2 separate regions of the Homo sapiens genome follow, and region 2 is linked to region 1. Evidence: fine-mapped expression QTL. A gene starts in region 1. The other region holds a variant in brackets. All regions are shown on one strand. Distances are from middle to middle.

Region 1 (11,106 bases):
CGATTTTATCCCCCAGGAGACAGCTGACAATGTTTAGACACAATTTACAATTTTGGTTGTCACGACTGGGAAGGGCGCTGCTGGCATCCTAGTAGGAGAGATCAAGGCTGTTGCTCAGCATCCTACAATGCATAGGACGGCCCCTCCACACAGAATTATCCACCCCAAAATATCAACCATGCTGCGGTGGAAAAACCCTGCTTTGGAGACGCCCCTGGCTCTTCTCTCTCATATCCTACAACTGCTCCATCAGCAACTCCTGCCCACGGTAGCTCCAGAATATACTCAAAATTCAAACAACTTCCCAAACCCTGCTGCCCCCACCCTAGATGAGCCTCTCGTTGTCTCATTTGCCTTCCCCTCGGTCATTTGTTAACACAGCAGCAAGAAACATACCGCAAAAATGTAAGTCAGCTCGTGTGACTCCTCTGCTCAAGAACCTTCAACGGCTCCCATCTCCGAATCTAAAGCAAAGTGCTTTCTGGGATGTATAAGAAGCCGTGAGGCCGGGTGCAGTGGCTGACATCTGTAATCCCAACACATCGGGAGGCTGAGGCCGGAGGATTGCTTGAGCCCAGGAGTTTGAGACCAGCCTGGGCAATATAGTGAGACCCTGTGTCTACAAAAAATGGGGGCATGTGCCTGTAGTTCTAGCTATTTGGGAGGCTGAGGCAAGAGGACGGCTTGGGTTCAGGGGTTCAAGGCTGCAGTGAGCTATGGTCTTACCACTGCACGCCAGCCTGGGTGACAGAGCAAAACCCTGCCTAAAAACAAAAAAAGAAAAACAAAACAAAAACAAACACAGAAGCTGGCCAGGCATGGTGGCTCACATCTGTAATCCCAGCACTTTGGGAGGCCTAGGCGGGCCAATCACTTGAGGTCAGAAGTTCGAGACCAGCCTGGCCAACATGGTAAAACCCTGTCTCTACTAAAAATACAAAAATTAGCCGGGCATGGTGGCACACACCTGTGATTCCAGCTACTCGGGAGGCTGAGGTATGAGAATCGCTTGAACCCAGGAGGCCGAAGTTGCAGTAAGCCAAGATCACGCCACTGCACTACAGCTTGGGTGACAAAGCAAGACTCTGTTTCAATAAATAAATAAATAAATAAATAATTTTTAAAAAACAGAACCTGTGGGATGGGGACCCTGATACCCCTACGACTGCACCTCTTACTCCTACGTTCTCCGCCACCCACTCTGCCCCGGCCACGCTGACCTCACACTGGCTTGATCAACACACAGCCACACTCCCACCTCAGGGCCTCTGCGCCTGCTATTCCTACAGTCTGAAGCACTTTCCTCCATCTCTTACTTCCTTCAGACCTGTGATCAAATGTCACCTGCTCGGGGAAGCTTTTCCTAGATTCCTTATCTACTTCCCACGGGGATCCCTGACCCCTCCCATCCCCTCCCCCAACTCCTTGTCCTCCTTAGCACTCAGTTCTATCTAACACCCTAAAGGTTGACTTTACCTCCATCATTATCTGTCTCTCCCTTAGAATATAAGATATATAACGACAGGAGGTTTTGTCTGTTTGTTTTCCACTGCTGCAGCCCCAGAATCCAGAACAATGCCTGGCACATAATATAAACTCAATAAAAATGGGACGTTGAATGAACGAATGAATGAATGAATGACATCCCTACTAGATGCCACGTGCTGTCCTAGGGCTCCCATGATGGGAGCCCTCACACTTGGCTCTATGCCTGGTACTTGGTCAGACCAGTGAATGGACATGAACTCAAACTTCCACAGGAGAGGCAAAGAACATCACGAGAGCCGTGGGAGGAATGGGAGGCGAGACGGAGCAGATGGAGGTGACTGTGGGGAAGTGGAGACCCCCCAGCTGCTGCTCAGATCCGGCCCATCGTGGTCAGGGTAGAACACAGGCTTGTGCTAGATCTTCCGCCAGCTCAGAAGAAGCCGGAAATCAGAACTACAATGGGAAGCCTCCCTATTTTTAACTGTTGGCAATGGATTCAGATTTTGCTTTCAGTTTTAAACACTTTGTACACTAGACAGAGCGCATCTGTGAATCCCATCCATGAGATTCGAGTTCTGCTCTTGGCTCGGCCCCTTTCTCAGCTAGGTGACCTTGGGCAAGTGACTTCACTTCTCTGAGCCTCAGTTTACCCATCCCCAACAGCGAGGTGGTGCCCACCTCATAGGATTAAACGAGATAACGTTCCCGGCTTGTCGTGAACACTCAGCAAAACAGAGGAAGAAGGGGCAGAGGAAATAGAGGGGGATGAAAAAGAGAAGCAAGAGATTTCAATCTTTTGGCCGAAGGGGGCATCAGGATGGCTGGTTCCACTCCTTCACGTTGCAGACAAGGGCTGTGAGGCTGGGGTGCAGGAGGGAAGACAGTGGTCACACAGCAGGGCAGATATGCAGCAGAACTGGCACCCAAGACTCCTGCTTCCCAGCCCCGCAGCTACTTGATACTCAGGAAAGAAATACTGATGCTAAGAGTGGGAGAGAGAAGGGGTTGGCACAGCAGAGGGCAGGAGTCTTGGAGAAGTGGGGAAGTCGAGAGCCAGGGAGCCGAGCTAGGAGAGAAGCTGTGAGAGGGAGAACAGGACAGAGGAAAAGAACCAAGTCGAAGATCCGAGGAGGTAGCAGGGGCAGGAGCGAGAAGCCTTAACGTGAAGGCCTGAGGCATCGAGTCAGGAAGACGTCGAAGGAGGCATGAGTGGAGGAAGAGGAAGTGGAGTCCACTAAAGGAAAAAGGAGGAAAGGACCAGGATGGGAGGTTGGAGGGCACCCTGGTGGGAGAGACATGGGTGGGGGCACTGATGGGAAGAGAAAGATGAACAGGAGGAGAAGCACAAGGCAGAAAAGAGAGAAAGTCATGAGTGAGGGCGAGTTAAGGCACGAAGTTTCAGGGGAGCAGCAGCCAAAGAGAAGGGGAAAGAGACAGACCGGAAGACTGGGCCGTGAAAGGGGGCGGGAGAGGCAGGGGACTTCAGAGGACTGGGGGGGAAATGTCGGGAGAGAGAAGATGTCACGGGGCACGAGGGAGAGGAAATGAAGGGGCAGGTGGAGCGGAGGAGCAGGGTCAAGATGAACTGACGGGAAAGAGGGAGAAAGAGGCTGCTGGGTGCAGTGGCTCATGCCCTTCATCCCAGCACTTTGGAGGCCAAGGCAGGAGGATCTCTTGAGCTCAGGAGCTCGAGACCAGCCTGGGCAACAGGAGACCTCATCTCTACAAATAATAAAAAAAATTAGCTGGGCACAGTGGCTCATGCCTGTGGTCCCAGCTACTCAGGAGGCAGAGGTGGGAGGATGGCTTGAGCCTAGGGATTCGAGGCTGCAGTGAGCTGTGATTGTGCCACCGTACTCCAGCCTGGGCGACAGAGTGAGACCTTGTCAAAAAAAAAAAAAAAAAGAGAAAAGGCACAGGGCAGAGTGGAAGAAATGAAACAGGAGGAGCCCCAGGTACTGGAGAGAGGGAAGATGCAGGGGTGTGATGGGGCAGCGCAGGAGACACGGACTAGGGAAAGATAGGATAAGGGGGTTCAGCGGAGAGGCAGAGGGGCTGCAGAGGGAGCATGCCGAGGAATTCCGCAGGGTGCCAGGACGCAGGGAGGAGTGGGAAGGAGGGGAGAGGAGGTCAGGGGCGCGAGTGGGAAGGCGCAGAAGCCCCTCTGGCAGAGGAGGAGGGGTGCCCAAGGGGGCCCCAGGATCAGGGACAGGCAGCCCCGGGAGGCTCAGGGTCTCTCGGAGGGGAGCGGCGGGGGCTGCGGGGAGGGCCGCCCGCACCCTACCTTCCAGGCAGCAGATCCTCCAGAGGCCCGAGTGCGTGAGGCCGCCGGGGTCCTTCTTCTCCGAGGCGCCGCCGCCCCCGCGGTGGGGGGTCCCGTCGTCGCCGCCGGCCGTGAGGTTGGTGGTGTTGCAGATGAGGGCGCGCGTGTAGAGCCAGTAGTCAGTGCTGATGGCGATGGTCATGAGGCCGAAGGCGGCGAAGGCGCCCACCGTCGTCAGCAGCACCTGCACCCCCTTCTCGCACCAGAGGCCCCGCTCTTCGTTCCAGCGCTTCAGCGACTCCAGTTTGACCACGGGCAGCCGGGGGGCCGTGGGCCACCACCGGGGCAGCGGGGGCGGGGCCGTGCCGGCGGCTGGGGGGGGGTTCACAGCGCAGGCAGAAGCGGGGGGCCCGGGGCCGGCGGGGCTGGGGAGGGGGGCGGCGAGGAGGAGGCTGCGGCCGGGGAGGGGGTCAGAGCGCGGCCATGGTCGGCGGCTGGTGGAGGGCAAGGAGCGAGATCTCGCATTAGAGGAGAAGAAGGCACAGGTACCTCCCCCAGTCCCCGCCCCCCCCCCCCCAAAATCCCTGCCTCAGCTCCAGAAACTCCTTCCACTCGGGGCTCCACTGCTTCTCTTTCTCAAAAATAATAATAATAATAATAATAATAATAATAATTAATAAATAAGATGAAATCTCTCTCCACTCTTGTCTTCTGCCCAAGAAAGTCATCCCACCATCCCACTAACCCCACTCGGAGGAGTCCCCACCACCGCTAATAATTAATAAATAAGATGAAATCTCTCTCCACTCCTGTCTTCTGCCCAAGAAAGTCGTCCCACCATCCCACTAACCCCACTCGGAGGAGTCCCCACCACCGCTAATAATTAATAAATAAGATGAAATCTCTCTCCACTCCTGTCTTCTGCCCAAGAAAGTCGTCCCACCATCCCACTAACCCCACTCGGAGGAGTCCCCACCACCGCTAATAATTAATAAATAAGATGAAATCTCTCTCCACTCCTGTCTTCTGCCCAAGAAAGTCGTCCCACCATCCCACTAACCCCACTCGGAGGAGTCCCCACCACCGCTCACACTCACAGCCCTCGCCCCTAGCCCGCGCCGCCTCCGCCCCAGGGGGCTCCACGATCCTCATCGCATGGGAAGCCACCCCCCGCCATGATGCCAAGCCCCACGCCGCCGCCTCCTCCCCAGGAGCCCCCGTCGCGTTCTTCCTTCCTTAGCGACCCCCGCCCCATCACCATGCGGCGCCCACCAGCTCTCCCCACTCTTCCCCTGCAAGCCCCACCTCTCCACCCGCTAGAACCCTTCCCTGTCAGCCCAACTTTTCCCTGAGCGTCTCCACAACTTAAGAAGCCCGAGTAGCACCACTTCCGTGGGAGTAACCTCCGCGAGCCCCCTCCGGTCTGGCTTTTGTCATTCCATCACTCCAAATGGTCCCCCACAGTTTCCTCTCCTTAGGAAAAAATAAATCTCTCAACCTCTCTTCAACTAAAAAGGAAAAATTAAAAGAAGAAGAAAAAGAAAAAGAAAATCCCAGCTGACCCTCACAGTTTGTGCAACTCGGAATCACCAGCCACCCTCAGTCAGCCTCCTCTCCCTGGAAGCCCCCTTCCTGCCTCGGGCAGCCTCCAACACACCTGGAAATCACCCGAGGACCTTAAAAATTCGGATGTTTGAGTCCCACCTGAGAAAGTCCGACATGGTTGGTCTGCAGTGTGGCCTGCGCATGTAAGTTTTTAAAAGCTCCCTGGGGAATTCTAATGCACCCAACATCAGACCCACTGGTTTGCAAGCTGCCCCCCCCCCGCCATCTCCAGCCCATTCCCTGTCACAGCCCCCACTGTCTCCCCACAAGCCACTCACTCCCCACCCCATACTATGCCTTTACTCCAGGAAAACCCCCACCCTCTCTTTTGCTTTAGAAGAGTTTTCTGAATCTTCCCACCCCGCCACCCCCCCCCCCACAACTTAAACGAACTCATATCATAACCATCGTTTTCTCCTCCATTAAGAAAAATTTCCTCCGTGAGTTCCACGGCATTTTCTACTCGCAAGAATGGCTTCCTCCAGACCCCAAATGTCTCTCCACTCAGGACCATTCCAATCTCTGCCCTGTACTCCCATAGCAGGGGGCACACTGTACCACCCACCCGCCCCTCTGCACTCACAGCAGCTCCCACTGCCTCCAAATCCCCTCCTCGTAGCCCTTCATCATCACACGGGATCTTCAGCACACTGTTTCCCCCAACTTGAGATCCCCCTAACTCACTTTGAAGCCCACTCTCTCTTCAATGTACCAGGAAGCATCCTCCCCAACTTCTCTCTCATCATATAGAATTCCCTTGACTCACTTCCTCTTGCTCCACCGCTATAGCTCCCAGGTTCTCCTCTGCCCCGGAAAATCCCCTCCGCAGGCCCCCACAGGCTTCCCTTCTTGGGAACGCCCCCCAGTACTCCCCTCTACGACTTCACCTGTACAGGAACACACACTGTAGCCCCTCATCTTCTTCCACATGCAGAAAGAGCCCCCCCAGTAGACTGTGTCCCTCTGAAAAATGTGATCCGCAAGACTACAACTCTCTTTTCAATTAGGAATACTTTCCCAGCCTGCACCCGCTGCCCCGTGGCTCCTTCATTTCTCTCTTCCACATTCTCCCCCGACCACCATGCCCCCAGCCCTGCCTGTCTCCCCCACCCCAACTGTCCTCTGGGGGATGTACTCCTTACTTGCTTCCACACTGCTTCTTCAACTTCTTCCCCCAAACCCACTATAGTTAAGAGCCTGGAAACCTTAGACGAAGAGGGGATTAAAAAAAAACAAAACAAAAACCAGAACCTAGGTCCCAGTACAGGGTGACCTTGGCCTCCTGATTGCTTGCCCGTCTCCACTGCCCCCCATCAGCTGGCCTCAGACTGGGGCTGCTCCGAGGAGGGGCTGTGGAAAAAGGTTGTCTATGGGGGGTGTCTCCATGGCAACTGGGCCTAGTGCCCCACACGTTGTGTTCCCTCCCCCACCTCAACTCCCGTCTGCCCACACACAGCCCTTCCTCAGGCCACAGTTCAGCAGCCCGCTGGACAGGGCAACCCCCAGCCTCCCGGCCTGGGCGCCGGCCCCTTCCTCTCTTTTCTGTCCGCATGCTGAGTTTCCTCTCTTCTTGATCTCTTGGCCTCTTCTCCCCGAATTGGTGCCCCTCACCACCAGCAGGGCCACCTACCCTGTCTTAACAGATATCTGCTCTCAGTGGGGTAAGCCTGTGACCCCAGGCCCCTAACAACCTGGGATAAGAGGGGAAGGGAAGAGGAGGGAAAGGAGGGAAATTCTCCTTCCGTCCAAAAAAAAAAAAAAAGATTCGAAGATCTTTTCATTTTGTCAATTTGGGGCACAATCTGGTTTTAGGGACTCTTAGTCCATCGTTCAGCAGCTGCCAGGGAGAAGAGAGCTGGGGACCCCCAATTCTAAAGCTTCCGGATATGAGGGGGTCACTCTCCTTTCTCCTTAGGAAGGGGACCAGCTCTTTTCTCCAGAATTCGGGGGGGGGGATCACAGAACATTAATTCTACCTCCACCCACCTCCGATTAATAAAAAGATCTGTCTCACCTCTGTTAATGATAGGTCAACTCTCCGATGCACGGAGGAGGGGACGTCGAGCCCCCCCTGTTGGCACCCCCCCCAGAAAAACCTTTTGGCTCCCAATTCTCGCTGCTTCCCCCTCCCCCAGCAGTGAGGGACCCAGGCGTCCGACCTGGTTCGGGGAGTGGAGATGAGGAGGCGTATGGGGAATGGGGGTGCTGAGGTCAGGCTGGGGCTGGGGGGCAGCTCTGAGCCTGGGCCCCAAGGGAGTGAGGGTCGGGATATATATATTAAAAAAAAAAGGTGAGGAGACAATTTGGTTCTCGTGTCGCTGGGTAAAGTGCGGAGCTGGAGGACGAGAGGGAGGGAGTAGGGAGGGAGGGGGAGGGGAGCTGCTGAGGGATGGGGAGCCTCGGAGAGGAGATGGATGGGGGAAGGGAAAGAGGGGGGCAGGGTCGAGTGGCAGAAGGAAGCCGGAGGAGAAGAGAGAGATCCAGAGAGGGAGGGAGAGAGACAGAGAGAGACGAGGAGAAACGGAAAGAGAGAGACCCAGAGACCGCGAAACAGAAATGGGGGAGGGAGAAATTTGGGGGAGGCAGCGGCTGGAAGCAGAAGGAAGTTGGAGAGATACACACAGAGAAATATCCAGAGAGAGAAGGGGACAGGGACAGAGACTCAAAGAGAGAAACGCAGGGGCTGGGGGGGAGGGGGTGGGGGAGGGCTGGGGTAAGTGTGTGTGTGGGGGGGGTCAGGATCTGGGAAACAGAAGGAAAGAAGAGAGAGGGAGAGAGTCATCCAGAGAGGAGGGAGGAGGGACAGATGGGGAGAGACAGACAGAAAGAGAGAGACTGAGAGGATGGGGGAGAGAGGGGGGAGAGGGAATGAAATGGAGAGCGGGTAGGGAGAGAAATTGGGGATGGGGGCAAGGTCTTGCTAGAGAGAAGGAAGCTTTAAAGAGAGAAGAAGATGCGGAGAGGGAGCGGGGGAGCAAGATAGTAAATGAAAGAAATGGAGGGTAGAAGGGCCTGGATGGCAGAAGGTACCTGGGGAAAGAAAGGCAAGTGCAGGAAAAGAGGGAGACCCAGAGAGAGACAGACGGAGAGGGACTGAGACAGGAAGAGAGAGAGATCCAGAGAAACAGAGGCAGACACAGAGACTGGGGATGCACCCGAAGGAAGCCCAGAAAAAATAACGGGAGAGGGGTGAGGCTGAGAAGCCCCGAGGAGGTCAGAGATGAAGGATACCCCTGCCCCCGCCCCCTCCCGCGTCCCCAGCCCCGGATCCCTGCCCCCTCCCCCATTCCAATGCCACCACCCCCACCCCCACTAGCCTCCATCTCTCTTCAGCATCGCTTGCCGCCGCCACCGCCTCTTCCTGTCGTCATAGCAACAGGATCCAGGCGCCCAGCCAAGGCTGGCAGCGGCGGCCGGAAATGAGGGGAGGGCCTTTTCAAAAGGACCCCAGGAATGCTCCCCTTTCCCAAAATCCAAGGGAAAGCGCAACTTCCCGGGGTCTTCCCACCGCTCCTCCTCCAAGTGGCGAGGGCAAAGATTCCCCCCCCACCACCCCAGATAAAACAATATTGAACTTACCACGTTAACAAGCCTTTTGACTTTCACCAACAATTTTTTCTTTTCTCTTCTCATCCCCCTCCCCTCCCCTAGTTCAAACCTGATGGGGAAGAAGGGGTAGAGTTAGATGCCCCCGAGATGGGGCTGGGGCTGGGAAGGAGAGTAGAATGCCAAAAGCTTGGGTGCAAATATGTCTTAAAGAAACTTGTCTGGGACTGGGTAGGGGTCTATGCAACAGTTTTGAGAAGCATGGATCTGTCCGTTCTAGAACTAGCTAGTAGGTTGGGGAAGTGGAACAATCGGAGGTGGAAAGTCTGAGATCAGAGTCTGAAAGTTCGGTCTTGGGTCCAAATTTCACGGATGCTCCCAAGGCTTCGTGTGACCTTGGACAAAACACTTCTTCTCCTCTATACTCAGTTGCTCTTGGTTATAAAGGGCACAGAAGCTGCCTCCAACCAAGTGAGAACGCGGATGGGAAGTGGGATTGCACGTGGCTCTAGGCAAGCCGTTTACTCAAGACCCGATCCTCGTAAAAATGTTATCAGAAACTAAGAACTAGTAGCCATGGCTGATTGAAGGCTGTTGGCATGCTTCGCTGTCTTACAGAAGTCCTACAGAATCTTTGCCGTGTGGGCACCAATGTTCCTACATTAACCATGAGTAACCTGAGGCTCTGAGACAATAGGGGTTATGGGGGTGGAGGGCGGCCAACAATAGGTGAAATTCATAGTCATTTAACCCAGCACACCTTTACTGCTCCCTCCTGGGGGCTGGCAGAAACAGGAATAACCTGTGTTCCCTAAATCTATTTACCTAGTGTTTGCTCCTGCTGGTTCCTTCCTTTGGAGGGGCGATATCTTTCAGTCCCCAGCATCTCACATTTCTACTGAAATTTCTTTAGGTCGTTTCACTTAATTCTCACCCCGCCCCATGGGAGAAAGTTTAGACATGCATTCCAACACTCCTGGTTTAGAAGCTAAGAAACACAGCCCCCAAGGGAAGGGGTCTGGAATTCATTCGTTTGAGGAAAGTTGATTATTTTCTGCTCTTTTGCTGGGGGATGCGGGGGGAGATACATCAGCAAACAATGATGATAACCAATATAAACTGGACATTTAGGCTGGGTGCAGTGTCTCATGCCTGTAACCCTAGCAATTTGGGAGGCCGAGGCGGGCGGATCACCTGAGGTCAGGAGTTTGAGACCAGCCTGACCAACATGGTGAAACCCCGTCTCTACTAAAAATACAAAATTAGCCGGGCATGGTGGTGCATGCTTGTAATCCCAGCTACTTGGGAGGCTGAGGCAGGAGAGTCACTGGAACCAGGGAGGTGGAGGCTGCAGTGAGCTGAGATCGAACCGTTGCACTCCAGCCTGGACAACAAGAGTGAAACTCCGTCTCGAAAAAAATAAAAATAAAAACAAACTGGGCATTTAATATTACAGACTCCAAGGAGCCTGAGGGTATTGGTTCCATCTTCAAAAGAAGTGGGTTCTGTTAGCAGCCTCCACTTTAAAGATGTGAAAACTGAGGTTGAGAGGTCAGTTGTATTGGAGGACATTCATCAGGACATCAAATTCCAGAGCCTGTGCTGATACAACTGCACTGGTGAGAACGACTATGAAGATAATTTTTTAAAGCCAGGGTTTCCCAATCTCAACGTTCTCAACATTTGGGCTGGATAATTTTGTGTGGTGGAGGCTGTCCTGTGCATTGTAGAATGCTGAGCAGTACTCCTCGCCTCTATCCACTAGATGCCAATAGCACCTCCAAATAGCACCCTAAAAATAGCATTTGGGGACAACCAAAAATGTCTCCAAACATTGCTCAATGTCCCTTGGGGAACAAAATCGCCCCTGTTGAGAACTATTAAATTATACGAACTAGCAACTGGGGGAAACCTCTTTATTTTATTTTAAATGAAAATATATTTCCTAGTCCAATCAATATAGGCTCATGGTTTAAAAAAAGAAAAGAAAAAAAATCAAATGGTACACAAGGGACTACAATAAAAATAATTTAGCCTGTTCCACCTCAAGTCCTTTTCCTTATTGGAAAAGTCTATTAACATTCTTGTTTTTGCTTTTGTTCTTGTTACTTGAGACGGAGTCTCACTCTGTCGCCAGGCTGGAGTGCAATGGCGCAATCTCGGCTCACTGCAACTTCTGCCTGCCGAGTTCAGGCCATTCTTGT
Region 2 (11,288 bases), 24 kb before region 1:
AGAGTCCCAGCTCCGCAGTCTCCCGGGCAGCAGGAGACGGGCGGGGCAGCAAGTCTGACTGGGGTTACCAGGGAGGAGGGGCGGGAGGCAGGGCCCCGGGTCTCAGGGAGGAGGGCCTGAGGCCAGGAGTCTTGGGTCCCTAAGGGAGAAGAAGCCTCGGTACCCCACTTCTGAGTGGTAGAGGAAGAAGGCCTGGGTACCCAGAATCTTGGATCTGAGAGGAGAGGAACCTGGTCTCCTAGGTCCTGGGCTCCTGAGTCTGAGGGAGGAGGGGCTGGGGGCCTGAACTCCTGGGTCTGAGGGAGGAGGGGCTGGGGTCTGGACTCCTGGGTCTGAGGGAGGAGGGGCTGGGCCTGGGCTCCTGAGTCTGAGGGAGGAGGGACTGGGGCCTGGACTTCTGGGTCTGAGGGAGGAGGGACTGGGGCCTGAACTCCTGGGTCTGAAGGAGGAGGGGCTGGGGGCCTGGACTCCTGGGTCTGAGGGAGGAGGGGCTGGGGGCCTGGACTCCTGGGTCTGAGGGAGGAGGGGTTGGGGGCCTGGGCTCCTGGGTCTGAGGGAGGAGGGGCTGGGGGTCTGGACTCCTGGGTCTGAGGGAGGAGGGGCTGGGGCCTGGACTCCTGGGTCTGAGGGAGGAGGGGCTGGGGGCCTGGGCTCCTGAGTCTGAGGGAGGAGGGGCTGGGGGCCTGGACTTCTGGGTCTGAGGGAGGAGGGACTGGGGCCTGAACTCCTGGGTCTGAAGGAGGAGGGGCTGGGGGCCTGGACTCCTGGGTCTGAGGGAGGAGGGGCTGGGGGCCTGGGCTCCTGGGTCTGAGGGAGGAGGGGCTGGGGGCCTGGGCTCCTGGGTCTGAGGGAGGAGGGGCTGGGGGCCTGGGCTCCTGGGTCTGAGGGAGGAAGGCCTGGGCCTGGACTCCTGGGTCTGAGGGAGGAGGGGGCAGGGGGCCTGGACTCCTGGATCTGAGGGAGGAGGGGCTGGGCCTGGACTCCTGGGTCTGAGGGAGGAGGAGGGCCGGGGAGCCTGGACTCCTGGTCAAGGCGTTGGCAGACCCAGAGTCCTGGGCCTCAGGGAGGAGACTGGGGCCAGAACCCTGGGTCTTGAAGGATGGAAGGCCTGATTTCCATGTTGGAGAAAGCGCAGGCCTCAGGGCAGGGCCGGCTGTCAGGGGCACAGAATGAAAGCAGCACTCCTCTTCATCGAGTTTATTAGACGGGGCACCCCTGGGGGACCTTCCATGCAGTTTCAGCTCCCCCAGGAGCAGGGACAGAGGACAGCCGTGTGGCATGGCGGCAGGGCCTGATCTTCAACCCCTCACCCCCTACCCCTCAGCCCTTCTGTGGACGGCCCAGGTGGGACCCACCTTTCACCAACTCCTTCTTCTCCCACAGTTGGCTGCTCCAGGCAGGCCTGGCGCTGACCTGAGCGAGGCTCTGGTGCACGCTGGGCCTCTCTGCCCACCCCCTGCTCTGGACTTTTCCGATGGAGCACGTGTTTCCCCGCAGTGTGATTGTCTGTGTCTGGTTCTTCCAGCAGACTGGGGCCGGGGCCAGGCACAGGAGGAATTCACCTTGGCATCCTCAGCTCTACCCGGCACAGGGCCAGGTCACAGGCAGTCTTGGAAAATGTGCATGGGGTGACTTGAATGAATGGATGGATGAATGGGCAAAGGAATGACCAGATGGAGTGAGATGATGGCACACAGACATCCCCGCCCCAGCTAGGGGAGGGGCCTGCTGCGTTTCCTCAATGCCCGCGTGGCCCCGTCAGAACACAGCCCCCTCTGTATTCTAATTGTCTGGACTACCTGTCCCCCCCTCTGAAGGCAGAGATGGGACAGAAGTGGCCTGAGATTGCAGGGCCTTGTACTTGGAAGTCCTCAGGAAATATTTTTTTTTCTTTTTATTGATCATTCCTTGATGCTGTGCTTGCTTCTGAGTCTCCACGTTGCTTTCTATGCGAATCTCTGGGTCTTTCTCCGGCTTACGTCTCCCTATCTCTGTGGTTGTGTTTTTGTTATCTCTGGGACTTCTCTGATTTGTGTACCTGTCAGTCTCTCTCCTCCTCCTTTTCTGTCTTCTCTGTATCACCTTCTTGTCTTTGACTTTATTTCTTTGACTTTCTTTCTTTCTGTTTTCTGAGACAGGGTCTTGCTCTGTGGCCCAGCCTGAAGTGCAATGGTGCAATCATAGCTCACTGCAACCTTAAACTCCTGGACTCAAGCAATCCTCCCGCCTCAGCCTCCCGAGTATCTAGGACTACAGGCGTGAGCCACCACGCCACAGCTCATTTTTCATTTTTGTAGAGACGGGGTCTTACTATATTGCCCAGGCTGGTCTCAAACGCCAAGCCTCAAGCAATCCTCCTGTCTTGGCCTCCCAGAGTGCTGGGATTACAGGCATGAGCCCCCAAGCCTGGCCAGAAAGTATTTCCAAGAACTGAGTGAATGTTTATTTCTGAAAATGAATGATGAAAACGTGTTCTTCCCCTTCACCTCAATAGGTCTTGACAGGGTCTACAGGGGGAATCCCAGAGTGTGCCCGGCGCTGACAGCAGCAAGAGACAGGAGCTGGGCAGAGCATCCCTGGCTAGGGGATCTGCCAGAGCCTAGCTGACAGCATCCTCTCTTCCCTGCCCCCTGAATTCATCTTCCCCTCCTGGCCCTGGGCTTCCCCATCTCTCTTGCTCCTGCCTGCTGTGACAGCTAATTGCAGGATGCAATTTTCTGCCTCCCATCTCCCTATCTGCATGTCTCCCTACTTCCTTTCAGGGTCATTTTTTTTTTTTTTTACCTTTTTTCTTTTTTGAGACAGAGTCTTGCTCTGTCACCCAGGCTAGAGTGCAGTGGTGTGATCTTGGCTCACTGCAACCTCTGCCTCCTGGGCCCAAGAGATTCTCCTGCTTCAGCCTCTCAAGTAGCTGGGATTACAGGTGTGCACCACCGCACCTGTCTAATTTCTGTATTTTTAGTAGAGACGGGGTTTCACCATATTGGCCAGGCTGGTCTCGAACTCCTGACCTCAAGTGATCCACCCACTTCGGCCTCCCAAAGTGCTGGGATTACACACGTGAGCCATCGCACCTGGCCTTTGTGTCAGTTACACACACACACACACACACACACACACACACACTTGCCTGAATTCCCTTTCCTTCTGTCTTCCCCCCAAATTCTCTCTCCCCTCCACTCCAGCAGGGCTTCTGTCCCCACCACTGCACTGAACTGACATCTTATCTTATCAAGATCACCAACCCTGTCCATGTCATCAGACCTAATGGTCACTCTGCTCTCTGCATCCTTGTCCAAGTCTCAGCAGCCCTTGGCACAGCTGGCTGTCTCCTCTCCTTCTTGAAACACAAAGGTGCATTTGCCCTCTGTAACCCTCCTGGTTTCAGCCTACCTCGAGATCACTCCTAAGCTCGTTTTGCTACATCCCCTTCTCCCCCAGATGTAGATGTCCCCAAGGCTCTGGCCAGGGTCGCTTCTCTGTCCCCACCCCCCTGCTAGGCCACGTCACCCAATCCTGTGGCTTTATGTTGACGTTTCCAAAACTTACGTTTTTGAGCCACGGCCTCTCTTTCCCCCAAACTCCAGTCTCACATATCCAACTGGCTATTTGATACCACAACTCGGATTTCTCGAAGGCAGATCTATCTTGACACATCCAAAAGAGAAGCCTTGGTTCCTCCCTCCCAAAGCCACTTTCCTGATCCCAGTCTCCTCGTTCCTGGTAACAATCCTCATCGGTGCCCATCAGAGATGTGCGTGCCCAATTCAGAGAGTTCTTCTCTTCCTGGTTCCTTTTCCTTCCCTCCTCTATGACATCCAGTTCACCACCAATGCAGGCTCTAGCCTCCAAAATCCCATGCCTTCTTCCACTTCCTCCATCCCACTAACTCCACCTTGGTCCAGGCCTCCAGCAACCAGAGGAAGGCAACAGCCCGCTACCTCCTTCCTTCCCCTTTGACTCCTGAAGTCTACGTATGCTCAGCACAGCAATGTAATTCTGCTGTTCTTGTTTAAATAAAAATATGAGGCCGGGCGCAGTGGCTCACTCCTGTAATCCCAGCATTTTGGGAGGCCGAGGCAGGTGGATCATTTGAAGCCAGGAATTTCAGATTGGCCTGGCCAACACGGTGAAATCCCGTCTTTACTAAAAATACAAAAAAATTAGCCAGGCGTGGTGGCACATGCCTGTAATCCCAGCTACTCAGGAGGCTGAGGCAGGAGAATCACTTGAACTTGGGAGGCGGAGGTTGGCAGTGAGCCGAGATCAGCCCACTGGACTCCAGCCTGAGACAGAGCAAGACTCTTTTTCAAAATAAATATAAATAAGAAAATAAAAATATGATCATGGCATGCCTGTGCTCAAAACCCTCCAAGCACTTCCCATCAGATCTAGAATAAAATTCAGATTTCTTCCCAAGGATCCAAGGCCCTAACTGATCAGCCCCTACCCTGTGCCTCTGTCCTATGGTGGATCTGCTCACCGCACAGGCCTCCTCGAAGACCTGCTACTTTTCTGGGCTTTGGGGCTGCCTCTGGTGGGTGGAATGCCTGGCCCCCAGACTTTCTCACCTCTCTTTCCTACTCACAATCCACATCTCTGTGACCTCTGCCACAAGGTCTACTCCAAGGACCTCATCTAAAGTCATCCTTGCTCTGTCATTCTGTTACCACTCACTGTCGCCCAGGCTGGAGTGCAGTGGCGCGATCTCAGCTCACTGCAACCTCTGCCTCCTGGGTTCAAGTGATCCTTCTTTCTCAGCCTCCCAAGTAGCTGGGACTACAGGCACACCAGCACACCCAGCTACTTTATTTATTTATTGGTAGAGATGAAGTTTCACCATGTTGACCAGGCTGGTCTCGAACTCCTGACCTCAAGTGATCCACCAGCCTCGGCCTCCCAAAGTGCTGGGATTACAGGCATGAGCCACTGCGCCCGGCCTTCAGCTTAATTTTTAAAGCACTTTTTGGTTACTGAAATGATATTATTTATTGTTTATCTCTCCAGTGTGTTTCAGGAGAGCAGGCCCTTGTCCGTCTATTTGCCACCACATCCCCTGGCCGAGATTGGGTCTAGAACAGGTTGGCACTCAATAAATATTTCTTGAATACTGGGAAAACAACACACCAGAAATGGAGCATTCCTTGACGCTGCGCTTGCTTCTGAGTCTCCACGTTGCTTTTTGTGCGAATCTCTGAGTCTGTCTCCGGCTTACCTCTCCCTCTCTATCTCTGTCTCTGTGTGTGTTTCTGCTATCTCTGGGACTTCTCTGATTTGTGCACCTGTCAGTCTCTCCTCTTCCTCTTCTCTCTCCTCTGTATCACCTTCCTGTCTTTGACTTTTTCTCTGTCTGTGACTCTACTAGTTTGGTCTCTCCTGCTCTCCCCCTCCCTCCCCATCTTGCTCTTCCTCCTGCCTACCCTCAACCTCATTCTTTCTCTCTCTCTCTCTCTCTCTCTCGTTCTGTTTGGCCTTCAGACTCTAGAATCCATTCTCCCCTAACCAGTTCCCTCTCCCTCTTCCAGCAAATATTTGCTGTCTCTCAATTTTTTTTTTTTTTTTGAGACAGAGTCTCGCTCTTTCGCCCAGGCTGGAGCGCAGTGGTGCCATCACGGGTCACTGCAGCCTCACCCTCCCAGGCCCAAGCGAGATCCTTTCACCTCAGCCTCCTGAGTAGCCGGGACTACAGGCGTGCACCACCACACCCGGCTAATTTTTGTATTTTTGGTAGAGACAAGATTTCAATATGTTGGCTGGTCTGGAACTCCTGAGCTCAATCTGCCTGCCTCAGTCTCCCAAAGTGCTGGGATTAGGAGCCACAGCACCCGGCCAGATTTGTCTCTTTTAACACCCGCTCCGGCATCCCTCTTCTCTCCACGTATCCGTCTCTCTCACTCAGCGCTTCTCCGTCTCACTGATTTGTATTCCTTTTCCTACATTTCCCAGCATCTCTTCCTGAAACCGCCTTGGCAGAATTCTTCCTAGGGACCTTCAGTCTCTCTCTTCCTGGTCCTTCCACACAGGCCTCGGAGAGAAATTCTGAACACCCAGCTCTGATCTGTACCCTTCCGTCAAGAGAAGGGCACGCAGAGCCCCTGGCAGCATGGCACCACCGCTGCCACGTCCTCCTCAAGCTGCGTCTGTGCCTGTTTTCCCGCCAGACTGGGAGCCCCTTGAGAGCAGGGCAAGATCAAAATCACCTCTCCACTCCCAGCACCGCCCAGCACAAGGCTTCGGGGGAGGCCTCAGGAAACACTTGCTGAGCAAATATGGAAGGGAAGCCTACTGGGCGCTGTCCCCTCTGCCTTCTCAGTGAACTTCAAACCCATCCCCTCCAATCACCGCACAGCCCTTGCCCCCGCGCAGCTGTCATCCTCTCTCACCATCCTTAGAAGAGCCTCAGTCCCTCTGCCTGGAACTCAGGCACCTTTTTCTCTTTTTTTCTGAGACAGGATCTCAGTCTGTTGCTCAGGCTGGAGTGTAGTGCCGCGATCCTAGCTCACTGCAGCCTCGAACTCTTGGAGTCAAATGGTCCTCCTCCCTCAGCCTCC[T/C]GAGTAGCTGTGTCCACAGGTGTGCTCCACCACGCCCGGCTAATTTTTTTTAATGTTTTGTAGAGACAGGGTTTCGCCATGTTATCCAGGCTGGTCTCAAACTCCTGGGCTCAAGTGATACTCCAGCCTCAGCCTCCCAAAGCGCTGGGATTACAGGCATGAGCCACCGCGCCCGGCCACCCTGGTACCTTTACACTCTAGCTTGTGGCTACTTTCCCGGCCTCATCTCCCAGCCCCACCTTGTACATCAGCATCCCAGAACTGTTAGCACTGACCCCAATACATCATGCTCGTTCACTTCCTCCCGTTTTCACCCAAGTTGTTCTTTGGCCCCACAAGCCTTTCTCATGCCTTTCATCAACCAGAAGATGCCCACTCATTTCTTCAAGACCCAGAATGGGCATCATATTCTCCAGGAAGCCTACCCCAAGTGCTGCTCACTCCTGGCAGTTGGTCACTCTGTCCACCGTGTGCCACGGTACCCACGGTGGTCCGGGTTCCAGCACCGATTGCCCTGCCTGGATGGCGGTGTTTGATGACAATAAACTGCTTGAGAGCAGGGCTAGAGTCTGTTTCACCCCTGGGGATCTGGATCCTAACACACTTCCTGGTACCTTAGCAGATGGCCAAAAATGGCAATGGGTGAGTGGCTGAATGAACGAGTGACAGACACATGAGTCTCTAAGCCCCACGGCTTTCTCCTGCACACCAGACACCATGACTATGCTTCAGCATCTGTGTAATTACGTGCTTCCTCCCACAAGAGTGTGAGCTCCAAGGGCCCGTGCCCATGTTTGATGCTGTATTTCAGCACATCTCTGCCTCCTACTCTTGCCTCCGAGTTCCTGTCTTCCCTTTGTACACCATTCACGTTAGCGTCCTGCTTAAACCCGTTCCACGGCCCTCACCACTCCTAGAATAAAATCTGAACTCCTGACCTACGAGCCCCTGCACAATCTGGCCCTGTCTGTGTCTCCGGCCTCACCTTGATCCCCGCTCACCTGCCTCACTACCCTTCAGCCCTCGCTGCAAGCTCCTTCCTGCCCCGGGGCCTTTGCACGTGCTGCTCTGCCTGCCACACTCCTGCCCCAGCTCCGCCCTGCTGGCTTCTTCTCATCCTTTCACTGTCCACTGAAATCTCTTCCTCACAACTGGGTTAGGCTCCCCTGATGGAGCATTTCATAGCATCTCGTTTCTCCTATAGCCTAACTGTAATTTATTGTGTATGTACATGATCGATTAATGCCTGTCTCATGCACAAGATGTTTACTCTATGAGACGTCGGGGCCCCTGGCTGTTTTCCTGCCTCCTGCACGCTGAGCACGGAGCACAATGCCTAGCTTTTTAAGGCGCACAAATAAATTGCCGGTAATGAATGAATGAATGAGAAGGCCCTTTCTGTGCCTCGTTCGTGTCCCCTGCTCCAATGCCTTCTTATGTACCAGTGCCTGGTACACAGTAGGTGCTTAATAAGCCCTTGTGGAATAATGAATGAAAAAAATGAATGAATGCCCGCGTCCAACCCTTCTTTCTGCCTTTCTGCATCCCTTCGCTGTGTCTCTTTATATAGGGCATATATATAGTTTGTGGGTGTAACTATGTATTCGTGTATTATGGGCCCCTCTCCAGGAGTTGGGCTGGGCTGGGAGTCCCTCCCTCCCCTCCCCCCGCCCCGCCCCCCATGCACACAGCAAAACATGAAAAAGAAAACATCTCGAAACTGCAAAAAACACCATGGCCCTCCCCCCTCCCCATAGATCCCCCAAAAAAATAAAACACGACGCTCCCTCACAGCGGCCCCCTCCCTCCCCTGCCCCCTCCCTCGGGGTCCCTGCTTCGGAGGGGGAGGGGGGCGGGGAGGGTGGGCGTGGGGCGGGCCCAGCAGTCTCCAGCGCGCTCACGGGGGAAAGCGGGGGCGCCCCCGACCCCGGCAGCCTCGATGCACGCGCGCCCGCGCACGCGCCCCGGACACGCCCCTCGGCTCCCCCGCCGCGCCCCTACACAGGCGTGGTTTTCCTGTTGAGCGTGTTGGTGTTGGAGGCGGCGGCCTCCTTGGCCAGGGTCCCGGGGGCGGGCGCAGAGGGCGCGGGTGGCGCGGGCGCGGGCGGGGCGGGCGGCCCGGTGACCGTGACCGTGACGCCGCCGCCCGCCTCCTTGGGGAAGGCGTTGTGCAGCGTGAGGAAGCCGGACGCCCCCCCGCGGTCCCGCTCGGCACCCGCCCCGCCGCCGCCTCCGCCGCCGCCCCCGGCGCCCCCGGCCGCGCCGCCGAACGCCCCCACGGCGCCGCCGCCGCCGCCGCCGGCCCCCGCCAGCCCCGCGGCCACGCTGCCCTTGGAGGGGTCGCGGCTGAGCGTGTACATGGAGATGTCCGTGGAGGCAAAGCCCGGGCCCCCGGGGCCGCCGGGAGACGCGTCCCGCGACGGCGACGGCTCGCTGGAGCGGGAGCTAGAGCGGGAGCGGCGGCGGTAGCGGAAGCGGTAACTGGGCAGACGGAGGATGGCCGAGGGGCCGCTCCCGCCACTGCCGCCCGCGCCCCCGCCGGCCTTGAGCAGGTCCGAGCGAGACTGGCAGTGCGCCTCGCGGCTGCGCTCGATGTAGATGTTGACGGCCAGCACGCCTATCACCTCGGCCAGGATGAACGACAGCCCGCCGAAGTAGAAGGACCAGCCGTACGAGTAGTGGTTTTTCTTCTCCTCGTCCCGCTTCGGGCCCGGCTCGCCCGCGTTGGCGGAGATGTACACGATCACGCCGATGATGTTGCTCAGGCCTGGGCGGGGACGGTCAGACGGGAGCCTCGAGGCCACCCCCGGCCCCGCCCCCGCCCCCGGCCCCGACCCCTGCCCGCCTGCGCCAGCGGGCCCAGGCGCCACCCCCAGGCGGTCTAGGCCCCACCCCGAGTGGTCTAGACCCCCGTCCTGGATCTGGCTGACCCAAGTCCTGCCAGAAGTGAACACAACTCCCCGCCCGATGCTCTAGGCGCTTCCCTGCTGGTCTAAGCTCCAACCCAGAGGGCTCCGGCCCACTCTTAGCTGGCCCAGGCCTCACCTCTGCTGGTCTAATCCAACCCCGGCTGGTCGAAACTCCATCCCCCAGGTGGTGTAGGGCCGCCAATGGTCCAGACTGCATCATGCGTGGTCCTGGCCCAGGCAGGCTCAAGCACCCCCTCAGATGGTCTAAATTCCACCCCCAGGTGGTCCAGGCCCTGCCCTGAATGGTCCAGACACGGCCCTGGATGGTCCAGGTCCTGCCCCCAGATAGCCCACGGCCCACCTCTGCCGGTCTAACCCAGCCCTGGCTGGTCTAAACTCTGCCCCAGGTGGTCTAGGACCCACCCCCAGATGGTCTGGGCTGCCCCCACATGGCATAAACCCCACTCCTCTAGCTAAGGTCCCAACTCTGCTGGTCTAAACCCCACCCTGGCTGGTGGTAACTCCACCCCAAGCGGTCCAGGCCCCACCCCTAGGTGGCCTAAGCCCCACTCCCAGCGAGTCCAGGCCCTGCCCTGACTGGTCTAAAACCCACCTTTGATGAGATGAGTTTCCAGGCCCTGCCCTAGTTAGTCTACCTCCACCCTTAACGTTATAAACCTGGGTTTTTCCCAAGCCTCATCCCTCTGCTCCTTTGAACTCTGTTAATGATGTCATCCTGCTGTGATCAGGCCCTGCCTTTCACTTATCTAATCTCTCTTCATATAATTCCTGCCGGAGTATCCATTCTAGGCCCTCCCCTACTGGTCAAAAATTTGCCTTTAATAAAGCAGGCCCCGCCTTCTACTCTAGGCCCCACCTCCAGCTTACCAAACCCCGCCCCGTGCGGATCTTGGCCAGGGTCCTTGCCGGTCTCGGGTCCTTGCCGGTCTCAGGTCCAGCTACTCCGGCCTTTCAGATCCTCCAAGCCCCACCCCTTGCAGATCTAGACCCATCCCCAAAGCACACCCTGCTCTTCAAATATGCAAAGCCCTCCCTCTTCTCTGTATTCTACTCCTCCAAAAAAGCTCTGCCCCTGGAATTTCCCAATGCTACTCATACGGGGTAGAAAGGGGGCCTTACCCCTTAATTGCGTGCCTCTTAAGTGTTCCAGTCCTAGCTCTCTGCTCGTCTAGGCCCTAGCTCTTGAGACGGCCAATCCCAGGTACTGACTGGCTTTGGTCGGCCTCTTGCTTCAATCAGCCAGGTTGATTCTCTGTGCCCTTAAGGACATAACCCCTCCCCCTTTGGCTTTTCCAGGCATCGCCCCGTCTTTTCTAGCCTCTCCTTCTCCAAATGGCCACGGGCAAGGGCCGATTCAGTCTCCCTTACCCAGCCCCTTTAGTTTCCACTTCCCGGCCCTGGACGGTTTCCCAGGACCAGCCCCCTCTTGGATCCACCAAAGTCTCCAAAGGCCCGCCCCTTAAAGCAGGCTCCTCATCGGCGCTCAGATCACTTTCTACCTCTCCTGGGCCCGCCCTCCAAGACCCAGCCCCGCCTCTCTATCCTCAAGAGCCCAATTGTGTCTCAAGGTCCCACCCCCTCCCCAGCTCCTCCCCTTCCGTCTCCAGGACGGCGGGCTTGGGATCCTAAGCGCCCGGCGTCTTACGCGCCAGACACCTGCCTGTGTCGGTTTACTCCTCCGAAGGCGACGCGAGAACTACACCCACCTTACCCAGCGGGTGGCGATGGAGCTTGGGGACCGCCTAGGAAGGCTCCGGGCCCCCGGGGGTGCTCGGGGCAAGGTGGCTTTGCAGACACACGAACGCGC

What was found. PIP is the estimated chance that this variant, and not a neighbour inherited with it, causes the effect.
Region 2: its variant is fine-mapped to the expression of CACNG8 in whole blood (INTERVAL, PIP 0.97).

What each region holds. Positions count from the first base shown.
Region 1 is chr19:53,956,092-53,967,197 of GRCh38, reverse strand. It overlaps CACNG8 (calcium voltage-gated channel auxiliary subunit gamma 8), which reads right to left and starts at 4,261. Exons shown (of 4, transcript NM_031895.6): 1 at 3,773-4,261. The coding sequence starts at 4,055. RefSeq lists enhancers at 4,900-5,420, 6,231-7,131, 9,342-9,876.
Region 2 is chr19:53,980,110-53,991,397 of GRCh38, reverse strand. CACNG8 (calcium voltage-gated channel auxiliary subunit gamma 8) reads right to left here. Exons shown (of 4, transcript NM_031895.6): 4 at 1,183-9,318. The coding sequence ends at 8,549. MIR935 (microRNA 935) reads right to left here and starts at 9,091; the gene lies at 9,001-9,091. It also overlaps a transcript of CACNG6 not described here. RefSeq lists an enhancer at 10,883-11,288. The variant T/C (reference allele first, on the strand shown) is at 6,552.